Linked DNA regions of Homo sapiens: region 2 is linked to region 1. A link means that fine-mapping ties the variant in region 1 to the expression of a gene that starts in the linked region. Tissue or cell type: whole blood. Region 1 holds a variant in brackets; the other region holds the start of a gene. All regions are shown on one strand. Distances are from middle to middle. Region 1 overlaps TRIM44 (tripartite motif containing 44). Region 2 holds the start of TRIM44 (tripartite motif containing 44).

The links. PIP is the estimated chance that this variant, and not a neighbour inherited with it, causes the effect.
Region 2: it holds the start of TRIM44, and the variant in region 1 is fine-mapped to the expression of TRIM44 in whole blood (INTERVAL, PIP above 0.99).

Annotation. Positions count from the first base shown.
Region 1 is chr11:35,677,744-35,690,532 of GRCh38, forward strand. It overlaps TRIM44 (tripartite motif containing 44), which reads left to right. Exons shown (of 5, transcript NM_017583.6): 2 at 7,516-7,593. Among named protein-coding and RNA genes, the nearest start is that of TRIM44, 21 kb to the left of the region's middle. RefSeq lists an enhancer at 12,589-12,758. The variant C/A (reference allele first, on the strand shown) is at 6,192.
Region 2 is chr11:35,655,722-35,668,510 of GRCh38, forward strand. It overlaps TRIM44 (tripartite motif containing 44), which reads left to right and starts at 7,054. Exons shown (of 5, transcript NM_017583.6): 1 at 7,054-8,059. The coding sequence starts at 7,391. RefSeq lists enhancers at 6,711-7,030, 7,242-7,742 and a silencer at 7,071-7,450.

The sequences.
Region 1 (12,789 bases):
CCAACAAGAAGCAACTCTAAGTCATGGAATTTATAATCTTTGAGCAAAACAGACAGTAAGGAAGTTAAATGATAAGTGATATTTTAAATAATGATAAGTACTGTGAATAAACAAACTGGGGAAGGAGATAGGGAGTGACTGGGATGTGGGAATGAGAGGGAAGCTTTTTAAGGATCTGAGGACTTTTTGAACTAGTGACCTGGGTGTAGTTAGAGCCAGTGATGAGAAGCTCTAGGGACATAGTGGTTCAACTGAAGGGAACAGCAAGTGTAAAAGCCCTGAGATAGAACAAGTTTACTAAGGGGATAAAATGAATGGCTGGAGTATAATCAGTAGTGGTGGGGTAGGGGTTGACTAGTAGATGAGGTCAGATTACCAAGTAGGCTGTGGTAAGGATTTTGGGTTTTATTCTAAGTAGTCATAGACTGTTTAAGCAAGGGAGTAAATGATCTGGTTTATATTCTTAAAACTTCTCTTTGGTTCCTATGTGGAGAATGGGCTGTTGGGTAGCAAGAGTGGGAGCGGTATTGCTGCTTGTACCAGGTTGGGAATAGTGGACAATACGATAGTGAAGAATACATGCCAACTGGATATGGCATATATTTTAGAGTTCGGCCTAAAAAGACTTGCTGATGGATTTTTTTTCAGACCCAAGAATGACTTTGAGTCTGACAACTAAAAGTGATGGCCTAGTGTAGGAGTGGGTTTGGAGTTAGAAAATGAAGTAATATAAAGGAGGTGGTAAAAATTTTCGTACATGGGATGGTGATACTAAAATTTAATTTCATTTCCTTTTGACAAAACTTTGCTTTCTGATTTGATTCCTTAGGAGGACTTCCTCTCCCCTCCCTCTCCCCTCTCCCCGCTCCCTCCCCTCCCCATTCTCTTAGACAGTGTCTCACTCTGTTGCTCAGGATAGATGGCAGTTGATCTCCGCCCACTGCAACCTCCACCTCCTGGGTTCAGGTGATTCTCATGTCTCAGCTACCCAGGTAGCTGGGAATACAGGCCATGCCCGGCTTATTTTTGTATTTTTAGTAGAGATAGGGTTTCTCCATCTTGGCCAGGCTGGTCTCAAACTCCTGGCCTCAAATGATCCACCCACTTTGGCCTCCCAAAGTGCTGGGATTACAGGTATGAGTCACTGCGCCTGACCAAGGAGGACTTCTGTATTCCATCTTCTGATCCTTTTCCACAATTTCTCCCAGACAAGACCTTCTGGTAAAATGACTAAGTTGGATTGATTTTTTTTTTTTTTTTAGAAGAATGATATCAACACAAGCCAATGGAATAGGGAGGAAAACACCCCAATACAGATAGCTAGTATTCTTTCTGAATTCAACATCTTCTGATTGATTCTTTGTAATAATAGAATTCAATATTCAGGAGCCAGTTTAGGATATTTATGTGGCTTATATTTACATTTTTGCTGACACGTGACTTTTCTTTTGGGTGCCTAGCTGGTTATTGGCATTAGACTAGACTGACTTCCATGAAAGTGCAGAGACCACTTGTCAAGGAATTCTTCTTCCTATTCTGATGCCACTGCTACCTGCCATATTCTACTTTTGCTTCTACCCTTTACCCATTTTTAAGGCATGTTTCCATTAGCATGAAATGTTATTTCTGTGTTTTGGGGTGGATGGATCTGAATGTATCAGGTAATATGTACTCCTTTGAAGAAAGGCACCCCAATTTTCATGGTGTTCAAACACAAGGAACATTAGAGGTAGAAAACATTTAGAATTGCTTCCAGGGATAGCAACTTCAGATATCTACCAGAAAGGTAATGTAAAGAAGAGAAGCAAGCCAAGGTAACTGGCAAACTTGAGAGAGGTTGCTTTGCCTAAAGTGAGTAGTTGCTACTCAGCTTCAGCCAATTTCTGCTATATGGGAATGGGAGCCCATTACAGTCATACCCTTTGGATTTACAAAAGAAGCTAGAAATCTTTATTTTTATGTCATATGTCCTCATTTTTAAATGCTAGCAACTAACTTAAAACTCTTAGTGGATGTGTGGGACAACACTCTAAAAGCCAAAGAAAATAGTTCTGTAGGCCTCAGGCTGTGGATATATAGCTTTTGATCTGGTCCATCTTCCTCATTTACAGATGGAAAAACAGAAACCCAGGGATGTAAAATGACTTTTCCAAGCTCACACAAGCAGTTGCTGGCAGTGCTAGTAGTAAAACCTAGGTCTCCTTTCTCTTTGTGCAATGCTCTTTACATTTGGAATGTTAATTGTTTTTGAGGATGTGAGAAAAGCTAATGTCATGTACAGCCCAAATTTTATATCGTTTTGAGGATTTCAGACCCCCTGAAATCCATACATGAATATCAAGTAAAGAACCTTCTCTTGAATCTGCTGGTCCATATGTTTGCATTGTCAAAGGAAAAGGCCCCAGTATTTACATTTAGGCAAATTCATGGGAAGAAGCACTGTAAGCAGGAGACCTTGGCCCTCTTGGTCAACTTCTGCTTCTCTCCCTGCCTTACTGCCTGCCTTTTTTTGTTTGTTTGTTTTTTAGTATGCTAAATCTTAATTATGCAATTAATAGGAATATATTTAACTCTAAAATCCTTCTATCCTAAGTACCAGTCCCAGCAATAATTGCTTTTCTAATATTCTACATACCTATGTCACTCATAGAAAGTAATAATTTTTTAAAAAACTGTTACATGTACCATTTTGCAAGGTTTTGTTTTTTTTTTTAAATTCAACAATATGTCATGCATTGTATCCAGGTACATACAACCTACCTCATTCTTTTTATTTGCTATGTCGTATTCCACAGTGTGTTAATTCCACAGTTTATTTAGCCACCCAATATTTATGAATCCTTGGGGTGTTTACAGATTTTTAGTATTACAAACAGTGCTGCAATAAATACTTTTGTACATGCATCCTTGACACAGGTGCTAGTCTTCCTCAAGAGGAAAGGAGAAGTGGATTGGTAGGCATGTGATTTCAGAGTGGCAGTTATTTTATATATCCATCAACAACATATGGAAGTCCCCAATTTCCCCAGGGCCTAACACTTGCTGTTATGAGATTAAAATTTATTTCAGGCTGATGGGTAAGAAATTATATTTTAATCATGAGTGAGTCTGAGCATCTTTTGCATGTTTTGATGTGTTTGCATTTCACATTTCTATTTTTTTTAAGACAGGGTCTCGTTTGTTCATTTTTTTTTGGAGATTTCTGTTGGGTTTATTTGGCCTTTTCTTACTGATGTATAGAAATCCCTTATGTGTTTTTTCTGTATTCTTGATACCATGTATATGTTATAAATCTTTTTCATTTAGATCTTTCTGATCTTGGTTTTGTCACTGACCAGCTCTGTGATTTTGGGGACATTGTTTGACATCCACAATGCCATTTTTGTCCATTGTGAAGGAGAATACACTACCTTTTAGTTATTGTATTACTGTGAAATGCCAGTGAAAGAGTATAAGCGCTCTGAGCTTTGGGTTCATTTGATTTTCACCAGCCATTTTTTTCAGCTGTAAAGTGAGAATACACTGCTTTTCAGTGAGATGCCAATGAAAGAGCATATGAAAGTGCTTTGGAGACTAAAGAATACCTTCACATGTACAGCATTTTGTCCTTTGGTTTTATTATGACTCATCCCTAGGAGGTGGCTTCTGTGAAGCATCCTATGCTTCTACAGATTAATCAAATTCTGAGTGGTGGGTGTCACAATGTAGCACTTATCTCTTTTTATTCTACACCTTCTTAGGGGAGGAACAAGGTACATAAACAAGATATGCTCACATTGAACTCCTGTGTTCTTGGAATGCATTGGGTGGGATGGAGGTGGAGAAGTACAGATAGCAGGGGAATCCTACTACTTTGCTAGTCATGTTATGTGCCCCAAGGATTGACAATCATTTCTAAAAATGGAACCAAATGTCTACAAGGTTAGAATTAGGCTGTCTTTTCTTACTATCCTGGTTCACTTCTCAATTAGAACTCAGGTTTCAGAGGCAGCTGTTCTGTTCCACTATCTTTTCTGTTCACTGGTTCCCTAACTATGGAACAAATGAGGATATAATCTCCTGTCTGGCTATCTTTTGACTAATGGCTGTCCTCAGCAAACAAATAATTAACCAAAACATGGTACTATTCTATGGTTTGGGGATACTCAGACTCAGATACCACCACCCTTAGACCCAAACAACCCCATGCCCCTGACCTATGTCCCATACTTTTTTTTTTTTTTTTTTTTTTTTGAAATGCAGTCTCGCTCTGTCACCCAGGCTGGAGTGCAGTGGAGTGATCTTGGCTCACTGTAGCCTCTGCCTCCCAGGTTCAGGCGATTCTCCTGCCTCAGCCTCCCGAGTAGCTGGGCTATGTCCCATGCTTTTGAAGACCCCTCCTGTAGCCATGCCTGTCCCGTTCCGTACCACTCTTCAAGTACCTAGCTACCCAAGAATTACCTGGTAAAATGTCCTGAGCTTGCTTCCAGGGCCTGCAGAGCCTCTCCTTGAGTCCGTCTGCCTGAAGATGGACCAGTTTCTGATACATGTATCCCTAGGTCCCACATGTGTATCATGGGTGACCAAGAGGGGTATTCTCAGCTTGGACCTGCTAGCTTGAACACCTGTGCACAAGGCCCCTTGGGGTGCAGGAAGGGACTGGAATGTGGGGAAAGTGGTGGGAGTGGATTGGGGCCAGAGTCCTCCATTTGGACTCTTGCCCCAGCTCTGCAGCTGTCAGGGTCAGGTCTGCCCCGAGGAGCCTCTGCCTTCTGACCAACTGCTTATTTTATAGATTTTTAAAAAAGCCTTTGGGAAAGGTTTTCTTCACCACTGATTTAGAGACTGAGTATAGCAGGCTCATCATAGAGCCCAGTTAATCTTGGTGAATAATTCACAGAGAGTGGGGTGGGGAGGTGGAACAGGTGAGTTTCCTGAAGGGAGGCTCTCTTAAGTTGCCTCTCCTCTGTCTCTTCCCTGGTTAGGCGATGCTGCTGATGCTTTGTGAAAAGGAGGAAGGATTCTGCTGACACACTGAATTTTTATGAAAGAAGGCTAAGGGTTCCCTTATTCATCCACACGAGGCACATCTGCTTGCAGACAGGCTGTCTGCTTCTTAGGGATTCCTTCGTTGTCGTTTTATTCTTTTCTGAAGGTTTTAAGACACAGTTTGGTGCATTCCTTTCTGTTCTCTAGAGCCAGGGGGAAAGTCATAATATATCAGAGCTCTTGCCGAAGAGCTTAAAATGGGCGCTGGCAGCTGGGATGTGGGGGAAGAGAGCTTTCCAGGGACAAGTGACCTGCTTGTTCAGCCAATGAGAAGCAGGTTAGAGGAATGATATCACCAGACAGGCTTTATTGTCTGATCATCTCGTAAAAGCATGATTGTTTCTGGCAACTTAACCCTTTTTTAGGCACTTCAGGTCTCACCTGCTTCCTGGTATATGACCTCTAAGTTCCTTTTGTCAACTGTCTGCTATGAGACCACAGAGATTAAAGACTAAAATTAGTGGAGGATATAGGGGAGTTGTAAACCATCATTTTAAAAAATAGAACTTATTAAAATTTAGAACCTTTGCTAACATGGAAATGTGATTTAAGCTGTGTTTGGAGAACACATCTAAAGTAGATATTGGTTGTAGTCATGTTGTGTCTGATTTTTACTGTGTAGACTTGAGAGGCAAGAGAGGTCAGAGGGGGGAAAATTGACCCTTTAGTATATTTTAATTTATATAGTGGAATCTTATTAGGTATTTCCTATTTTGGAGGAATTGAAATTAGTTCTGTAAATTTGGAAGATATGTTATCACAGATCCAGAGGCCAATTTTGAGTAAGAGATATTTGCAGTATCTGTTTATTCTTGTACTTCTTTGTTGTCCCTACCCCATAGAAATGACAGTGAGTTTACCTCTTTTTGCTTCCTTTCCCTCATTGGTGAAATGAATGTTCCTACCTATCTGATAGAGTTGTTGAGATAAGAAAATAAATGAATTCCTGTGATTTTAGATTGTCCTATATATAATATAATGTATTATTATTATGGCATTCATGTCTTAAGGTTATATGTTCATTCATTGATTTGTTCAGACTTTTTACAACATCTAGATGCTGGGCATAAGAGATACAGGGATACAAAAAAATACAGTTCTTACCCTTAAGGAACTGAAAATATCACGAGGGAGACAGATAGTAATAAAACTGTTTCATACTT[C/A]CTTTTTTATTTACCATGTGCCAGGCTCTGTTCTGAGTACCTTGACATACATTAACTAATTTAATCTTACTGCAGTCCTATGAAATAGATAGTTATTGGCTCTATTTTACAGATAAAGAAATTGAGACAGAGAGAGGGTAAGTAACTTGCCTAAGGTCACACAGCTAGTGTGTGACTAATGGCACTAGGGCTCTAGTCTGTGCTCTAAATCTGTACTGACCAATATAGTAGTCACTAGTCACATGTGGCTTTGGAGCACTTGTAATGTGGCTGGTTTAAATTGATTGGGCTGTAATTGTGAAATACTAGATTTCAAAGACCTAGCATAAAAAAAAATCTCATGTTGAAATTGCATGTTGTAATGATATTTTGAATATACTGAGTTAAGTAAAATACATCAAAATCAATTTTACTTTTTAATTGTGGCAGTTATAAAATTATATACATACGCTTGCATTTGGGACTCACATTAGTCTTTTATTGTACTGTGCTATTCTAAATCATTATACTGTAATAATAGTAATAGCATATGAAATTTTTGAGCACTCACTGTGTGCCACATACTGTGCTAATATCTTTTAAAACACTTTCAGTTAGGCCCCAAAATAGCCCAGTTTATTATCACTATTTTATAGAAGGGGGAGAAGGTTTTGAGACATTTAGTAATTTGCCTGAAATTAATCAACTAGTTAATGGCAAATCCAAAATTGGAACTGTATATGTCTGACTCAAAAACCTGTGAGTTTTATGGGTTTTTTTGGTGTTGAACTCCTGGCCTCAAGCAATGCTCCTGCCTCAGCCTCCTGAGTAGCTGAAATTACAGGTGCAAGCTACCACACCCAGTTAAAAAACCTGTGTTCTTAATCAGCACACTACAGTTCCATTCATAATTAAATTTCAGACTATTTTCTTTGTTTTAATTTTTATAAGTATATTTAATATTGCATACTTCTATATCTGATGCATAAAGGTTCAAAATAAAAATTACCAGTCTGTAAAATAGACATCTTGTATGGAACTGTCTTTTGTAGAGCTTCAGTGAACACCAGCACAGTTGAGCCTGAGATGAAGCAGTGAGTCAGCCTATACAAATTGTATTTAATTTTCATTCCATATAGTTGTGCCAGTCACTGGGCAATTTATGTCCTGACACTCTTTGTCCATAGAGAAGGGAAAGAGGGGCAATGCACCTCTCCTTTGTTGTTTAGCTCTCTTGGCTGTTAAGAAAAAATTGCTTTCTATTTCATTGTCTTCCAAAATGCTGTTTGTGTTTGAGAGAGCAACAAAATGCTGTCTAGTGACCCCTCACTTTTCTTTCTTCTAGAGCAAAGACTCAGGTGGACTGAAGGCCGCTATGATCGAATTGGTGGAAAGGTTGAAGTTCAAGAGCTCAGACCCTAAAGTAAGTATTGTTTGGAATTGATTGGGTGTTGGTACCCCAAGCATTTCATTCTCCTTGAGCTAAAATTGTGAGGTGTTGATGATCATCTCTCTGAATATTGCATTAAGATTTAATTAAGCCTGCCCATCAGAAACAGTGTCCTGATATGCCTAGAGATAAGTCATCTATTTTTCTCCTTCTCTATTTTATGACTTACAACACATAATCATTCATTGTTTTCCCTGAACTGCAGACAGGTGCATTTTTAATCCTCCTTTACCAGGGGTCTTTGAATCTTTGGTCCTCTGTGTCCATTAGATGCAGCCAAAGGCGTCTGAGAGAAATACAGATCATCTTTTTTTTTTTGAGACAGAGTCTCGCTCTGTTGCCCAGGCTGGAGTGCAGTGGCGCAATCTTGGCTCACTACAGCCTCCGCCTGCCGGGTCCAAGCCATTCTCCTGCCTCAGCCTCCTGAGTAGCTGGGATTACAGGCCTGCGCCACCATGCCCTGCTAATTTTTGTATTTTTAGTAGAGACGGGGTTTCACCATGTTGGTCAGGCTGGTCTCGAACTCCTGACCTCGTGATCCGCCCTCCTCGTCCTCCCAAAGTGCTGGGACTACAGGTGTGAGCCACCGCACCAGCTGAGAAATACAGATCATCTTAATGCCAGGGACTGGCATGGGATCCAGACTCATCTAGTTGGTGTTCAGCACTAGCGTCTTATCTCTCCACTGCTTCCAGGAGCCAGCTGCCACTCAGAATACTTTTTTCCTCATGACCTGAAGTCTGGTTTGGAAACTGGTTTAAGTGTCCCGGCTTTTTTTTTTTATTTCAATATGTTAGGGTCTAGAGGATTGATATTCTGGGAGACACCATAACGGGGTGGAGGTAAACGGAACTGAACAGACTTCCTTCTCCTTCCTACCCAGACACTTACTGTGGCACTACCTGGTATTGGGGCCAGCTGGCTTTGCCTTAGAATCAAAGTTTCTCACAATTAAATAGGGAAAGGCGCATGATTTTATTTTACTGTAGGTTCTTTTTGTTTTTGTTTTTGTTTTTTTTTTTTTTAAGAGGAATGGGACTAGCATTTCTTGAGTATCTACTGAGAGTCAGGCACTTTGCTAGGACTCTTACATGATTGTACTAAAATATACATACAAAATTTTAACCATTTTTGAGTGTACAGTTCAATGGCATTAAGTACATTCACTTTGGTTTTTTGTTTGTTTGTTTGTTTTTGTTTTTTGTTTTTTTGAGACGGAATCTCGCTCTGATGCCCAGGTTGGAGTGCAGTGGCATGATCTCGGCTCAGTGCAACCTCTCCCTCCCAGGTTCAAGTGATTCTCCTGCCTCAGCCGCCTGAGTGGCTGAGACTACAGGCACATGCCACCACACCCAGCTAACTTTTTGTGTTTTTACTAGCGACAGAGTTTCACCATGTTGGCCAGGCTGGTTTCGAACTCCTGACCTCAAGTGATCTGCCCGCCTCAGTCTCCCAAAGTGCTGGGATTATGGGCGTGAGCCACCACACCTGGCCACACTTTGTTGTGCAGCCATCATCACTGTCCATCTCTAGAGCTTTTTTACTATCCCAAACTGAAATTCGGTACCCATTAAATGCTAACTTCTCATTCCTGCTCTCCCCTTAAATACTTTTAATTATTTAACAACACTGTAAAGTAGCATTTTCTTCCTACTTTATTGATAAGAACACTGAGGTTTAGAAAGGTAGAATCATCTGCCCAAATCTAATGTAATATAGATGTGGAATTCAAACTCTGACTCCAGTGCCTATACTCTTTATCTTATGTCATGCAAACCAAGCACTGGATTTTATCTCCTTTCTGCCACATGATCACATTGTGCTGCAGTTTTCTAAATTGAAACACAATATGTGGCAGAGCCATAGACTGGTGGGCTCTTCAAAAGGTGGCTGCAGCCACAAGAATAAATTTCTCTTCATATGGCAATGAAAATATCGGGGACATTGGTAAGATCTCTTGTCTTCTGGTGTAGTCAGGGTTCCAGAAGTAGAGAGTTAGGTTGGTAGATAGAAAAAATTAGAGTAACCTTTATCAACTTTCCTAGCTCAAAGTAGGAGGACCCCTGATAAAAGTTTTTCCTTTAGCTAGGATGAACCACTTATTAAAAGTTACTGAAAGCTTTTCTTACCAAGTTTCTCTGGTTTCTGGAGCAACTCCTGTTCTGCAGGAGACAACCATATTCTGATTCCGCCAAACTTATAATTAGCAGTGCAGTGAAGAGGGAGCGGATGTGTACAAATCACACTGAGTGTTCTCTGTGTATGACTATAATACAGGTAAAGTGCTTTGGGATCCTTTATGAATGCATGTAGTGCTTCTGATGGAAAGCTTGCCAGAAAGTGAAAGGTTTGAGCGGTTGCATGAGAGGAATCCCTGGAAGTGTCAGGGTTTTCTCTTGATGCATCATAAGGTAAAGGATATTTGTAAGGACCCGACTTGATCTTGGGTGTGTGTGTATACCTGCACCTCTTTTTTACGTTCTTTTTATTTTGCCCTGGATCATTTACTACCAACCTATTTTATTTTCAAGCCCCTTTTTAGTCTACCACAACCATATGCTGTATATACTTGGAGCCAGCTTGAAGAAGGGTGAACGTAATTGCAGAATGACTGCCAGGTCAGGAATGGGGGTAAAAAACAGGCCACTTAAATATATAATTTCTGCACAAAGAAGATTTTCCTAGAAATAAATTGGCATCTTCCAAGACAACCCTTAAGTTTTTGTCTGTTCTGTTTTCCCACAGAGCCCCACCATCCCCTTTTTGAGTTGGCCTATTTAAGAAGGGCAGAAATCTCTTAGGCTTTGTGACCTGTCATTTCCTGGGCACAGAGGCTTTACATAGAAGCACTGATTGAGTCATGGAGGACTGAGCACTATCTCTGCCTCACTTCCTCTAGAATTCCCTAAAGCATCACAAAGCTTGATTAGTCCAGACACTGAAGCCTATTGGGGAATGAGTTAATTTTTACCTCTTGAGTTTTGCTAGAGAGCAGTAGAAGATGTCTAAATTAATCATTTTTTTAAAATTATAAAATAATACATACTTATAGATTTAAAAATACAGATATTCATAAAGAAAAAGTAAAATCTCCCCTAAGTTAGCCACTGTTAACAGTTTAGTATGTAACCTTCTAGACATTTTTCTATGTAGTACCTTTTCAAAATTCTTTTACAAAATTATACCCATGGTTTTACAATTGCTTTTTCCTTTATGTGGAATATCTTAGATATTCTTCTGTGTCAAAAATATAGACTTGATTCTGTTTAATGAGATGCCTCATTTTATTCAAAACATTTGTCAGACATCTTCTTTTCTTCCAGACCCAGAGGTTCTTAAACTTCAGTGTACATGAAAATCACCCAGAAGACGTATTAAAATATAGAGTGCTGTGCCCACCTCCAGAGTTTTTTATTCAATTGGCCTGGGGTGGCTAGACAATGTTCATTTCTATGAAATTATCAGGTGATGCTGATGTTGCTGTTTCAAGTACCACACTTTGAGAACCTCTGTGCTGTACCTTAGCTGTTTTCCTCTATGTTTGCTAATGATTTTTTTTCACTTCTTTGAACAAGTAGAAGAGCCCCTAGAAATAAGTCCAGGTGATTTCAACTTTGGAAAAAAGGTAGATAAAAATCTAGGCTTATGAAACAAGTTGAGCAGAGGTAGGAAAGGAGTAGGGAGGGGAAAAAGAGGTGGGTTAGGAAGTCAGCTTAGGCTAAAAGGACGGGACTGCTTTACACTGTCACTTCCAACAGAGAATTAGCAAAGCCAAAAAGAGGGAAAGGGATCCTGGTCGGGATTTAGGAGGATGATCAAAGCTCCCTGCCATGGTTGAGGTGTAGGCTGAGTTCTAAAACCAGAGGAAAATCAGGAACAACCAGCCATTATGGGTGAGCCTTAGGAGAGGAATCAGAGCCAGTGATGGTTAAGAAATAGGGTACAAGACCGAATGAAGTTTTGTGCATGGATGTTGCTGTGGTGAGCCCTGTTTTAAAGGGTACATACCTCTGGGCATCTAGAACCCTCTATATCGTGGAAGAAGATTACTTTTAATAACAAACAATCTTTAGTTTGTCAAAACGATTAGTAGGAAATGGTCTTTTACATAATACGCTGTCCTAATGTGTTTGACTTGGTTTAGTTTGCAAACTTTTTTTTCTCCAGCCAAACTTTTCTGAAACACCTATTGCACAAGCAGGATTCTTATCTGTAGATTGAGTACATTTATGGTAGGCTTTAGGGAAATTTTAAAATGTAATCAGTCAGGGGTATGTGTGTATATGTGTGTCTGTACTTGGATTTTTAAGAAATTTAGAGCTTTTTTATTTCTTTATCTTCACAGCTTTCCTTTGTAGTGACTATGCAGTTATCTTTCACAGTTTACTCAGAGGTAACCTAGGCTTGGAAAACACGTTGATTCCCTTTCCTCCCTTCCCCCTGCCCAGTCCTCAGAAAGCATTGAACCAAAAGTACAACATGCTAAGCTCAATCAAACTAACCTCTTATTATGTAGTTAATAACAGCCACTTTCTCTCTATTATGTATTGATTGCTTTTCTTTCCCTCTGATATGCACTGTTCATTGTTTCCTGTAACTGGTGTGCTTGAAGCAAACAGTTAGCACAGTTGTGTGTCTTGAATTCATACTAATCTTATATTCTCAAAAAGAAGCATCTTAAAACTTGAGCCAAGTGGCTCACATTGTTCTGTGTGACTGGAGTGGGATTAAACATGGGATCTGATCATACCCAAGGCTTCCTGAAACAGCAGTTTTTTTTTCCTTTTGTTTCCTCTAGCCTCTAGAGGTATTCTTACTGAAGTGTGAAACCAAAAAATTATCTAGCAGCATGAAATTAGTTAAATAAACCCAAGAATGGTTTTCTTTTTTTATTTCAGCATTTATGTAGCATTTTATAATTGCAAAAGAACTCTGCAATCATTTGTCATAGCTGATATCATTGGCATGGAACACAGCCTAGTCCTTCACTCTTCTGTGATAATCAGATTCTTGTCAAAAAATACAAATTTTAAATGTACAGGTAGTGATGAATATAAGCAAAACCTAATTTGAAATTCTTATTATTGTGTCCTATTGTGTCCCATTATTCACAAGGATCAAGCCAGGCATCATCTTGATCCTTGCCCTGTGCCAAAAAAGAAGTATTCA
Region 2 (12,789 bases), 22 kb before region 1:
GCTCTTCTATTTGGCACAGGTGAAGGGGACAGAAATAGATTTCACACCTGGAAGGAAAAGACAGGTAAAGTTATTTAGAATCAGGCAATTAGGGGTGATATTAACTATTCAAACCACAGATGAATATGGTAATATCCAATCTGAAAGATCTGGGTTTGAATCCCAACTCAGCTAGATTCTGGCTGTGTAAACCTTAAGTTTTTCACCTCTCTGAACCTAGGTTTCCTCATTTTGTGTAGAGTTCAAATGTTAAAAGACTTAAGGGCTATCAGCCACGTAACAGCTGACACCTGTTTATTCAGGAATACACTATTTCTGGAAGTCTCACATGCACTCAGAAAACAGCTGCAGCTGCAAACTGCCCTGTCCTCCACATCTGCCTGCTGCTGAGCGTCTTGGAGATGCCTTAGAGCCATTGCTACCTACGATGAGAAGACAACGGCAATGCCAAGTGTGATGACCAGCCCCCAAGATGACTCAAAGTTTTGGGGTAATTTGTTATTGTTTGGGCTCAGAAAATGATACCCCAAAATGAAGGCTTCAGAAGCATAAGTTTCTCTCTGACTTTCTCCCACTTTCCTGTCTCTAGCCCCTCATTCTCCCCTGAGGCTAGCCAAAGAAACTAGAATTCCTCTTTTTTTTTTTTTGAGAGGGAGCTTCGCTCTTGTTGCCCAGGCTGGAGTGCTGTGGCGTGATCGCCGGCTCACCGCAAGCTCCGCCTCCCAGGTTCAAGCCATTCTCCTGCCTCAGCCTCCCGAGTAGCTGGGATTACAGGCATGTGCCACCACACCCGGCTACTTTTGTAAGGTGAGTCGTAGACACCAGAACCTCTTTTCCCCAAAGCCAGTCATAAAACTTAAAAGTATTACTCTAACTTTCCCCCACATTTCTGCATAAAAACTGGCCATAAAGAAATGATCTGACTTACTTTGCTTGATTGTAGGTCATAAGACCCCGATTCCAGAGAAAGTCCTGCCCTGTACCTAGAAGGAAGGAATGTTGCACAGAAAGGCCAAGAGGAATCTAGACAGGCAGACCCTGCTGTCTCCCCACTCAGTCTGTTATTGTTATCAGAAAGGGGCCCCAATCTAGACCCCAAAAGAGGGTTCTTGGATCTCGCCCAAGAAGGAATTCAGGGTGAGTCCGTAATGTGAAAGCAAGTTTATTAAGAAAGTAAAGGAATAAAAGAATGGCTACTCCATAGACAGAGCAGACGGCTGTCGGCTGCCCACTTTTATGGTTATTTCTTGATTATATGCTAAACAAGGGGTGGACTATTCATGCCTACCCTTTTTAGACCATATAGGGTAACTTCCTGACGTTGCCCTGGCATTTATAAACTGTCATGGTGCTGGTGGGAGTGTAGCAGTGAGGATCTCCAGAAGTCACTCTCATTGCCATCTTGGTTTTGGCGGGTTTTGTCCAGCTTCTTTACTGTCATCTGTTTTATCAGCAAGGTCTTTATGACCTGTATCTTGTGCTCACCCTCTATCTCACCCTATGACTTAAAATGCCTAACCATCTAGGAATGTAGCGCAGTAGGTCTCAGCCTCATTTTACCTAGCCCCTATTCAAGATGGAGTTGCTCTGGTTCAAACACCCCTGACATTAGCATTAGATCATACCCTTTTTTCTTCAATCATATTTCTACATGGCTGTTCATACTTCATTGACCCTAAGTATAAAAATAGACAGTTTCCCCCTGTACTTTTGGGTCTTCATTCTGAAGACTCTTGTGTAATGTAAAACTTATATTAAATAAATTTATACATCTTTTCTTCTATTAATCTGCCTTTGTTCAGGTGATTTTATAGCAAACCTTCTGAGGGTGAAGTTTCCCCTCCCTTCCTACATTATGTAGCGATAGACAACTAACACAAATTTTATTAAAAAGAATAGTTTTTCCATAACAAAACCCTAAAATGTTAGAATGGTTTTAGAACTGAGCAGAGGGTAGAAGCTGGAAGGACTTTGAGAACAATGTTAGTGAAAGACTAGAGTCTTTGCTGGATGCGGTGGCTCACACCTGTAATCCCAGCACTTTGGGAGGCAGAGGCGGGCACATCACCTGAGGTCGGGAGTTCGAGACCAGCCTGATCAACATGGAGAGGCCCCATCCCTACTAGAAATACAAAATTAGCCGGGCGTGGTGGCTCATGCCTGTAATCCCAGCTACTCGGGAGGCTGAGGCATGAGTATCACTTGAACCCTGGAGGCAGAGGTTGCGGTGTGCCGAGATCATGCCATTGCACTCCAGCCTGGGCAACAAGAGCGAAAAACACTAGAGCCTTTGTAGGTGAGAACTTAAAGGGAAATGAGGAACATGTTTTTGGAAACTGGAGGAAAAGGGTCCTTGTTATGTAGTGGCAGCAGTTTAGTAACATTGTCACCTGCAGTAATGTGCAAAGTAGAAATTGTGCCTAACCAGCTGAGTGTTCTAGCTAAGGATATTTCATGGTAGACTGTTGAAGGTGCTAACTGATGTTTTCTTGCTGATTATAGCAAAATGTGAAAAGAAAGAGATCATCTAAAGGAAGGACTTAAAAAAAAATCCGGAACTTGCAAGTTTTGAAAATTCCCAGCTTCCCCAGATGGCAAATGATGCTACTGTGAAAAAATGGCTTCCAGGCAAGGAAAAACTCCAGGACATTCCCAGCAAAACATCATCAAATGATGAAGGTAAGAGTGCGGCTATAAAATCCTTTGTTCAGACCTCAAAAGGATCTATAGCAGTGATTCATAGAATCATTCAAACAAACCATAGAGCTTGGAGGAAGTTTATAGTGTTGTGCTTTAGTGGTTTCACTGAGGGATTCTACAGAGTAAAGAAGGGTTTATCTTGAAAAGAGCTGTATGTATAATTTTTGTCCAATGGTATGAGCCCCAATTCGATTTATAGAGGATTCACAAAGTTTTCAAAACAATTCTTTGGCAGAAGCACTGCCAGCATGGACACACAGACAGAGTACAAAATGAAAAGTAGCCTTTGGACCTCCTAAATTCTACTTGCAGTAAGCAAATTGATACAATTACACAGCTGCAAACATGAACTACTTTTAATGGAAAAGGAAAGATGACTCAGAGAGTGGAATCAAGAGCTCAATGGGTGAAATAAAAAGCCATGGGGAGTCATTCCTGAACAAGGAGTAGGTTTGAACCCTAATCAAACAGCTTCCAAAATGTGTCTACCTGGATTTAAGGATTCTATGAGCCAGTGACTTCTCAGGCCTCCTGTCTTTCCTCCTTTTTGAGCAGGACTGTCTGTACCACTAATCTTTTTTATTTTTATTTTAGACAGAGTATTGCTCTGTCACCCAGGCTGGAGTGCAGTGGTGTGATCTCAGCTCACTGCAACCTCCGCCTCCTGGGTTCAAGCAATTCTCCTGCCTCAGCCTCCTGAGTAGCTGGGATTACAGGCATGCACCACCACGCCTGGCTAATTTTTGTATTTTTTTAGTAGAGATGGGGTTTCACCATGTTGGCCAGGCTGGTCTCCAACTCCTGATCTCAGATGACCCGCCCGCCTCGGCCTCCCAAAGTGCTAGGATTATAGGCATGAGCCACTGCGCCCAGCCTGTACCAGTTATCTTAAACCTGTCCCACCATTGCATGTTGGGGTGTGGGAGACATAGGCATTCAAATGAACTATACTTGAGGATCTGCACTTAAAACACTACACCAAAGTGCTTCATCCACACCTGGTCCCAATTTAGATGACAGGACTCCAGACTTTGAACTGATAATATAATGGGTTGAGACTTTTGGGGACCTTGGGAAGAAGTGAGTGTATTTTACATTTGGGAGATACGTGAATCATTGGTGGCCAAAGGGCAGACTGTGACAGCCAACCTCCAAGATGGCCCCAAAGATTCCCATCTCTTGGTTTTCAAGCCCTTGTGCAGTTTCTGCCCACACTGAATAGAGCTAATCTCTAACCAATAAGCTATGTACGAAATGATGGCGTGTGACTTCTGAACTTAGGTTATAAAAGACATTGCATCTTCCATCTTGCCCTCTCTTGGATCACTTGCTTTGTGAGAATTCAACTGCCCTGTCTTGAAGACATTCCAGCAGCCCTATAGAAAGTGGTGAGGCCTTTTGCCAACAGCCATGTGAATGAACCATCTTGGAAGCAAATTCTATGCTTGTAGGTAAGCCTTCAAGTGACGATAGCACAGCCAACATCTTTACCAAAATCTCTTGAAAGACCCTAAGTCAGAACCACTCAGCTAAGTCACTCCCAGAGTCCTTGCTCACAGAAACTATGTAAGATAATAAATGTTTATTGTTTTAAGCTGCTACATTTTGATGTCATTTTCTATGTAGCAATAGGTTAATATAACAAGGGTGCTATTTGTGGACACTCCCAAAGATACTAATTCCTGGGGAATCAGATGGTTCGGATTTCTCTGCAGAGGGGTACAGAGATCTGCCTCATTGAGTCTGCCACACCTTGTCACCAGAAATTTATGGAGTCCCTTTTTAATAGTTTAATCTGGCCAGGTGTGGTGGTTCATACCTGTAATCCCAGAACTTTGAGAGGTCGAGGCTGGTGGATCACTTGAGTCTAGGAGTTCGAGAGCAACCTGGGCAACATGGCAAAACCCCATCTCTACTAAAAATACTAAAGGTAGCCGGGCATGGTGGCACACACCTGTAATCCTAGCTACTTGGGAGGCTGAGGCAGGAGAATCGCTTGAACCCGGGACGCAGAGGTTGCAGTGAGCCAAGATCGTGCCAACGCACTCCAGCCTGGGCAAAAGAGCAAGACTCCATCTTAAAAAAAAAAAGTTTAATCTGTCTGCCTCTAAGACCCTTTCTCCACAGAGTGCTCAAGAAGAATTGTAAAGTGTCAGATACTGAACTGCACAGTATTATATTTTAACTTTCTGTCAGATAACATTAAGAAGAAACAGTAATAACAATAATGATGACATGACTCCCCCTCCCCTCATCAAATACCCTGGATACAACAATGTCCTTTTAAGATATTAAAAAGGCCAGGCCTGTGGCTCACACCTATAATCCCAGCACTTTGGGAGCCTGAGGTGGGAGGATCACTTGAGTCCAGGAGTTCAAGACCAGTCTGGGCAACATAGTGAGACCCCGTCTCTACAAAAAATACCAAAACAAGTAGTGGGGCTTAGTGGCTCACGCCTGTGGTCCTAGCTACTTGGGAGGCACTTGGGAGGACTGCTTGAGCCCAAGAGGCTGAGGCTGCAGTGAACTGTGATTGAACCACTGCACTCCTGCCTGGGCAACAGAGAGAGACCCTGTCACCAAAAAAAAAAATAAATAAAAAAAATAAAAATTATTTTCATTGAATAAAAGACTTTCTAAATGTGAGAACGTTATGTTTGTAAAGGCTAAGTTGTTTCCTTTTAAGCCTGGGGGAGGACAGGAGTAGAAATAACCAAGCAAGGCACACTTCTCATTAGGTATATTAACGTTGATGTTTGAGTTGACATTTGTTGAATTTTTTTTTTCAGAATGGTGCTTCAATTCATGTTTCAAAAGCAGACACAGAAATAATTTCCAGAGAAATGAGCTGGGGGAAAACAGAAATGTGTATGGAATTGGAACAAAATAAACCTGATTTTTTTCAACATTGTATAGAATTGTTCTGAGGTTAAAAAGAAAGGTTTCTAAAAAATAAATATCTAACAAAAGCTGCACAAAGATTAGGCATACATTATCCATGGAGACATTAAAAACTATTAAAAAGGTTTTTTTACCCCACCTCATCCCCTGGTATGTTTGAGGAAAGCATCTGGAAATTCTAACTCAAAATCATCTAAGGGAATCAATGTAAAACAGACACCATTCCATCCCCTTTCATCCTTCTTAATACACCTCAGCCTCTCCCTTGACTAGATAAAAACGTAATTTTCCCTCTCCCAAATACAGTGCAAAACAAAAACTCTTCTGTGAATGGAGAGACATGGATATGGGGTAGAGGTGGAGACTTGCCTACATTACCAGCAGCCAGCCGAAAATGCCCTGTGTGTGTAAAATATGTTCCTTCAAAGGGGCATTGTGAGCACTAAATATAATTTGTGCCAAAAATAATAATGAAAGCTTAGTGAATACTCTACAGTGCAGGCATCGTTACATTTAATCCACAAAACTACCCCATGAGGTAGATATTTACCGTTCTTTTCACTTAACATCTTTTTTAAAAAGCGGAAAACAGAATGATGAATTAACTTGTCCATGGTCATAAAACTGATAGGTAGTGGCACCAGGATTTGGGGACCATCGGGCAGAGGATCTTCCAAAACCGGCTTTTAAAGAGCCACAAAAAGATGTAGCCGGGTTCTTGGCACTACAGTACTGCTTTATAAACAACAGTTCCCTTCTTTTCTCTTAGAGCCCAGTGGGAATCTAGAGGGACACCTTACATAAAGGAAAATGACTGCAACCTGGACCTGTCACTCGACAAATACTGCCTCTCCCCACCTCACTTCACCTGACGTCTCTGCCCAACCGAAGGCAGCTCTCAGAAAACCGCACAGAGGTTACCACCCCAGAAATTCTGAGATCCTAGGAGGTAGCAATGCAAATAGACAAAGCACAGTATTGCTTTGGATCGAAAATATTTGTTTGCTCATCCTAACTCCAATTCCCCTAGCCTAGAACAAACATAGCCCTTCCGCACTCAGGAAATCCCAAGAGGTCAGGTTCAGTCTGGTAAACAACACTGTCCGGGCACCTTGCAGAACACTGGGGACTGTGACGGGCGGCGACAAATTGGCACAAGAGAGACTGAAATGCACAGGGACACCAGCCTAGTGGCCGTGAAAACTCAAGTTGACACTTCCAGGGAGGGAATGGGGGAGGTGGAGCCCAATTCCTGCTTCTGGAGAGAGTAAGAGACTTCCTCCATCCTCCTTCTCCCTCCTCCTCCTCCAAGGCACGCTGAGATTTGGAGCGGAGGAGCTGAGCCCCGCGGGAAAAGCAGAAAAGGGTCATTGCCACTTTAAATGACTCAGGAAGTAAAAGGAGGCCTCCTGACGGGGAAAGGGAAAGTGGAACCGGGGCGGCGCGGGGGCCGGCGGCTGCCGCGATCTCTCCCTGGTAGCGGGAGGCTGAGCGGGCGGCGCGACGCGGGGGCCGACGGGGGCGCCGGGTGGCCGCGCCGGAAGTGCCTTGCGCGGCAGAGGAAGCGCAGGGACAGAGCGGAGCAGGCCGAGCCGGCGGAAAGGGTCTTTGCTGCTGCGCCCGGGCAGGGGCTGCCGCGGCCCCAGGTCCCGCTTCGAGACGCGGCGCGGTCCAGGCGGGAGGCGACTCCCTAGGAAGGGACCCGGGGCGGGAGGAGGAAGTGAGGCCGCGCGGAAGGAAGGCGGCGAGCCCCGGGGCCCCGAGGCCTTGGCCGCGTCACAGCACCCACATGGCCTCTGGAGTGGGCGCGGCCTTCGAGGAACTGCCTCACGACGGCACGTGTGACGAGTGCGAGCCCGACGAGGCTCCGGGGGCCGAGGAAGTGTGCCGAGAATGCGGCTTCTGCTACTGCCGCCGCCATGCCGAGGCGCACAGGCAGAAGTTCCTCAGTCACCATCTGGCCGAATACGTCCACGGCTCCCAGGCCTGGACCCCGCCAGCTGACGGAGAGGGGGCGGGGAAGGAAGAAGCGGAGGTCAAGGTGGAGCAGGAGAGGGAGATAGAAAGCGAGGCAGGGGAAGAGAGTGAGTCGGAGGAAGAGAGCGAGTCAGAGGAAGAGAGCGAGACAGAGGAAGAGAGTGAGGATGAGAGCGATGAGGAGAGTGAAGAAGACAGCGAGGAAGAAATGGAGGATGAGCAAGAAAGCGAGGCCGAAGAAGACAACCAAGAAGAAGGGGAATCCGAGGCGGAGGGAGAAACTGAGGCAGAAAGTGAATTTGACCCAGAAATAGAAATGGAAGCAGAGAGAGTGGCCAAGAGGAAGTGTCCGGACCATGGGCTTGATTTGAGTACCTATTGCCAGGAAGATAGGCAGCTCATCTGTGTCCTGTGTCCAGTCATTGGGGCTCACCAGGGCCACCAACTCTCCACCCTAGACGAAGCCTTTGAAGAATTAAGAGTAAGTATTGGGCCTTCAGAGCATAAACCTAGGGGTCAGGACACCTGGGTTTCAACTCAGGTGGCCTGGCTGTGACCACATTCGCTTTCACTGTGTCCCTAAGAAGCTAGTCTTTCCAACTTTTTGGGAGCAGTTCTTATTCACCGTTTTTGGTTGAACTCTTTTGAGAATCTGATGAAAGTTCTGGACTCTGACCTGAGAAAATACACACAAAATCTAGTATACAATTTCTAGAAAATTGCAAGTTTCTGGTCTGTGGATCCCAGGTAAAGCATTTCTTGGGAGTTTTGACCCCACTTAGGCCAATTTCCACAGCATCACTATTGTTGAAACTGGTGCTTTGTGCTAGGGCTCTTGATAAGGCAATCTTTTTGCCTACTTGAAAACATGGGAAATAGGATTTTGCCACATGAATCCAAGCAAGTGATACGTCTGCATTGAAAAGACTAACAAAATAGTTTTAATAGTAACTTCATATGTGCCCCGAGTTCATTTTAGATTCTTCGTGTTTGAAACTTAGTAGAAAAGGAGGGTAAGAAGATGGAGGCCAAATTGGGGTGGGAGTGGAAGTTCCCATGTCCTCTGTCTGGATCTTTGTCTGTCGTGGACCTTACTGGTCCCCCAGAACAGTGGACACTTCGGAAATATTTGTTGAATGAATGAATTTGCAGACGATGCACCTTTTATTCATATTGTGGATGTTTACTATCATTGAGAGAAACTGCTGGTGTTAATCGGGGAGGGAGGGGGAAATTTTGAGTGGAGTGATCAGTTCATTAAGTAATCTGTATTAGTGAACATTGTCATATTATGATGACTTTTGCTTCCCTGAATAGGGAATAGCTGGCATTGGGATAACAAATACCTTGAGAGTGAAGATCCTCTGTATTAGGTTTTCCCTTTTTTAGTGCCTATTTATAATTGTAAAATGCACATTCAGAAAGTGTGTAAAAACTTACAGTCTAACAAATAATTATAAAACAAGTACTGAGGTAGTCTCCATCCAGATTAAGAAATAGAACATTACTAGCAATATTGAAGCCTTTTCCCCATACCTTTTCCAATTATAACCATCTCTCTTCTGCATAAGTAAGCATAATCTTGACTTCTGTGATCATTTCCTTGCTTACCTTTATGCTTTTACTCCATGTGTATGCATTCCTAAACTTATTTGAACTTGACACTATGGGTGTCATATTTTTATCATGCATTCTTCTGGGTTTTGCTTCATTTTCTCAACATTGTGTTTGTGAGAGTCATCCTATGAGTGACTGTAGTTTATTCACTTTCATTACTATTTCGAATTCCATTTTATGAATATGCCACAAGTTATCTATTCTGTCATAGATGGTCATTTGATTTGTTCCCAGGTTTGGGAGCGTCGGGCTGTTACAAACAATGTCAGTGTAAATATTCTTGGTCATGTCTCGGTGTACATTTAACATACATTTAAGTGGAATATAAACGCAGGAGTGAAATTGCTGTGTCAGAGGCTATGCATATCTTCAGTAATACTACATGTTGCCAACTATTTTCCAGAGTGGTTGTACCAGTTTGAATCACTATGAAGAGTATATGAGAGTTCCTGTTGCTCTGTATCTTCAAAACTTGCTATTACTGTATTTTTCATTTTTGTCAATCTTGTGGCTATGTAATGGTATTTTATTGTGGTTTTAATTTTCATTCCTCTGATTACTAATGACTTTGAGGATCTTTTATACTTCCTCTGTGAAGTACCTAGTCAGTTCTTTTGCCCATTTTTCTATTGAGTTGTCTTTTCTCATTATATGAGTTTTTATATATCTGTTTTTTTTTTTTTTTTTTTTTTTTTTGAGATAGAGTCTTGCTCTGTTGCCCAGGCTGGAGTACAGTGGCTAGATCTCAGCTCACTGGAACCTGCGCCTCCCAGGTTCAAACGATTCTCCTGCCTCAGCCATCTGAGTAGCTGGGATTACAGGCACATGCCACAATGCCTAGCTAATTTTTGTATTTTTTTTTTAGTAGAGATGTTTTTGCCATGTTGACCAGGCTGGTCTTGAACTCCTGACCTCAGGTGATCTGCCTGCCAAAGTGTTGGGATTATAGGTGTTAGCCACTGTGCCCAGCTATATATTTGTTTCTGATTTTTTTTGTTGTTCTTTCTATGTGGGTTGCAAATATCTTCTATGTGGTTTTTCTTTTTAAAGAAGTTGTGCCTTGAATAGAAGCTCTTCATTTTAATGTGGTAAAACTTATCAATACTTTTCCTTATGGTTAGTGCTTTTTGTGTCTTGTTCTACTTAGTATTGATTTTTGTGTAGTAGAAGTAGGGGCGCAATTTCATTTTTTCTCCATACAGATGGCCAATTGCTATTGCTGTATTTATTGAAAAGCCCTTCCTTTGTGCACTGATTTGCTGTCCCACTGTCATATATCAAGTGCCCATAATATGTGTGAATGTGTTTCTTGGTTCTTCTGTTCTCTACTGTTTATCTGTTAGTATATCCCTGTGTGAACAGCATGTTTTCTCAGTTATCCCTTTATAATATGTCTTAATATCTGGTAAAGCAGGTCCTTCCATCTTGTCCTACAAGAGTGTGTTGGCCAGTTTTGGCACTTTACATTTCTTAGAATCATAGTATTAAAAAGCCTGCAGGAGTGTATTTGGATATTAAATTTATAAGCCAATATAGGGAGAATTAATATCATTACAACATGAAGTCTTCTGATTCATTAATTTAGGTCTTTTTTATTGCTTCGCAGTTAAGTTTTATATTTTTTTCCTCAAAGATTTTTCACATCATTGTAAAATTTATTCCTAGATACTTCATAATTTTATAATATTGTAGAAAATATGAGCCAGGCACAGTGGCTCACACCTGTCAGCTATATGGAAGGCTGAGGTGGGAGGATTGCTTCAGTCTAGGAGTTTGAGGCTGCAGTGAGTTATGATCCTGCCATTTCCCTCCAGCCTGGTCGACACGGCAAGACCCTATCTCTAAAATAAAAATAAATGGTTTTAAGTTTTGTTTTCTAATTGAATATAGGAATATGATTAACTTTTATATATTGTTTTTTTGTGATCTATCTGCTGAATTATCTTACATATCCTAATAATTTATCTGTAGATTTATTCTACATACCTGATTGTATTATGTGTGAAGAGAGATACTTTTTGTTTGTTTCTTTTCAATCCTTATATCTGTTATTTGTTTTTTCTTGCCTTACTGCATTGGATAGCACCCCGAGTATTATGTTGAATGGATGTGGTTGGTGGGTATTCTGGCCTTGTTCCTAGTCTAGCAGTAATTGATAACATTGCACAAATAAGTGATATGTTCTATGGTTTTTGAAAATAGATATGTTTTATCAGTTTAAAAAAATTCTAGTCCTGGTTTGCTAAGTTTTTCTGAATTTTGATTGGTTATTTAATATCAAATGCTTTTTTTGCATCTTTTGGGATGATCATGTGATTTTCTCTTTCACTTTTATGATGATGAATTACATTAATTGATTTACTTATTAAAGTTAATTTTTAAAATCAGTGATACATTCATATACCTCAAAAGCCTGTGTCCTTTTCACCTGATTCTTCTACCAGCTGTTGGTAACTACTTGTTTTTTCTTAGAAACAGGATCTTACTCTGTTGATCAGGCTGGAATGCAGTGGTGGGAGCATAGCTCACTGTAATCTCAAATTCCTGGGCTTAAGCAATCCTCCCACCTGAGCATCCTGAGTTGCTAGGACTACAGGTGTGCCACCATGCCTGGCTAACTATTTATTTTTTATTTTGTAGAGATGGGTGTCTTGCTATGTTGCCCAAGTTGGTCTTGAACTCCTAGCCTCAAGCAGTCCTCCCGCCTCAACCTCCTACAGCTGTGGGATTACAGGCTGTTCCTGGCCAATAACCATTTTTATTAGTTTTTTGGTTACCCTTCAGGTGTGTGTTTCTGCAAATATAGGTGTGTGCATATATATGGTCTTACTTTCATCTCTTCGTATTGTTGTATTTTATAATTAAAGCAGAAAGACTAGCATTTCTGGGATATCCTTGATCCAACTTGGTCATAATGAAGTAGCCTTATGTTTTTGGATTTGGCTTATTAATAATTTATGTAGTTTTTTTTCATTTATATTTATGGGAGAAATTGGCCTATCATTGTTCTTTTACTGTTCTTATGGGATTTTGCTATCAAAGTTTGGCTTCATAGTCTGAGGCAGAGTGTAGTGTTTCTTATATATTCTTTCTCTCTTTTAATGGTCTGGAAGTATTTGTGAAAGATTGAAATATTTCTTCCTATATTGATTGGTAGAACTGACCATGGAAGCCATCTATTCCTGGAGAGAGTGAAGGGGGAAGGGAGAGTTGGTTTATTGTTGGTGCTTTCTTTTGTTTTGTTTTTTGGTTTTACATTTTTTAACTGATCACCAACATTTTATTATTTTTAGTTTCAAACTTTTAAGTTCTGGGGTACATGTGCAGGATGTGCAGGTTTGTTACATAGGTAAACATGTGCCATGCTGGTTTGCTGCACAGATCATCCCATCACTTAGGTATTAAGCCCAGCATCCATTAGCTATTCTTTCTGATGCTCTCCTTCCTCCCACCCCCTATCCACTGACAGGCTCCAGTGTATGTTGTTCCCCACAATGTGTTCATATGTTCTATCATTCAGCTCCCACTTGTAAGTGAGAAGATGCAGCATTTGGTTTTCTGTTCCTGCATTAGTTTGCTGAGGATAATGGCTTC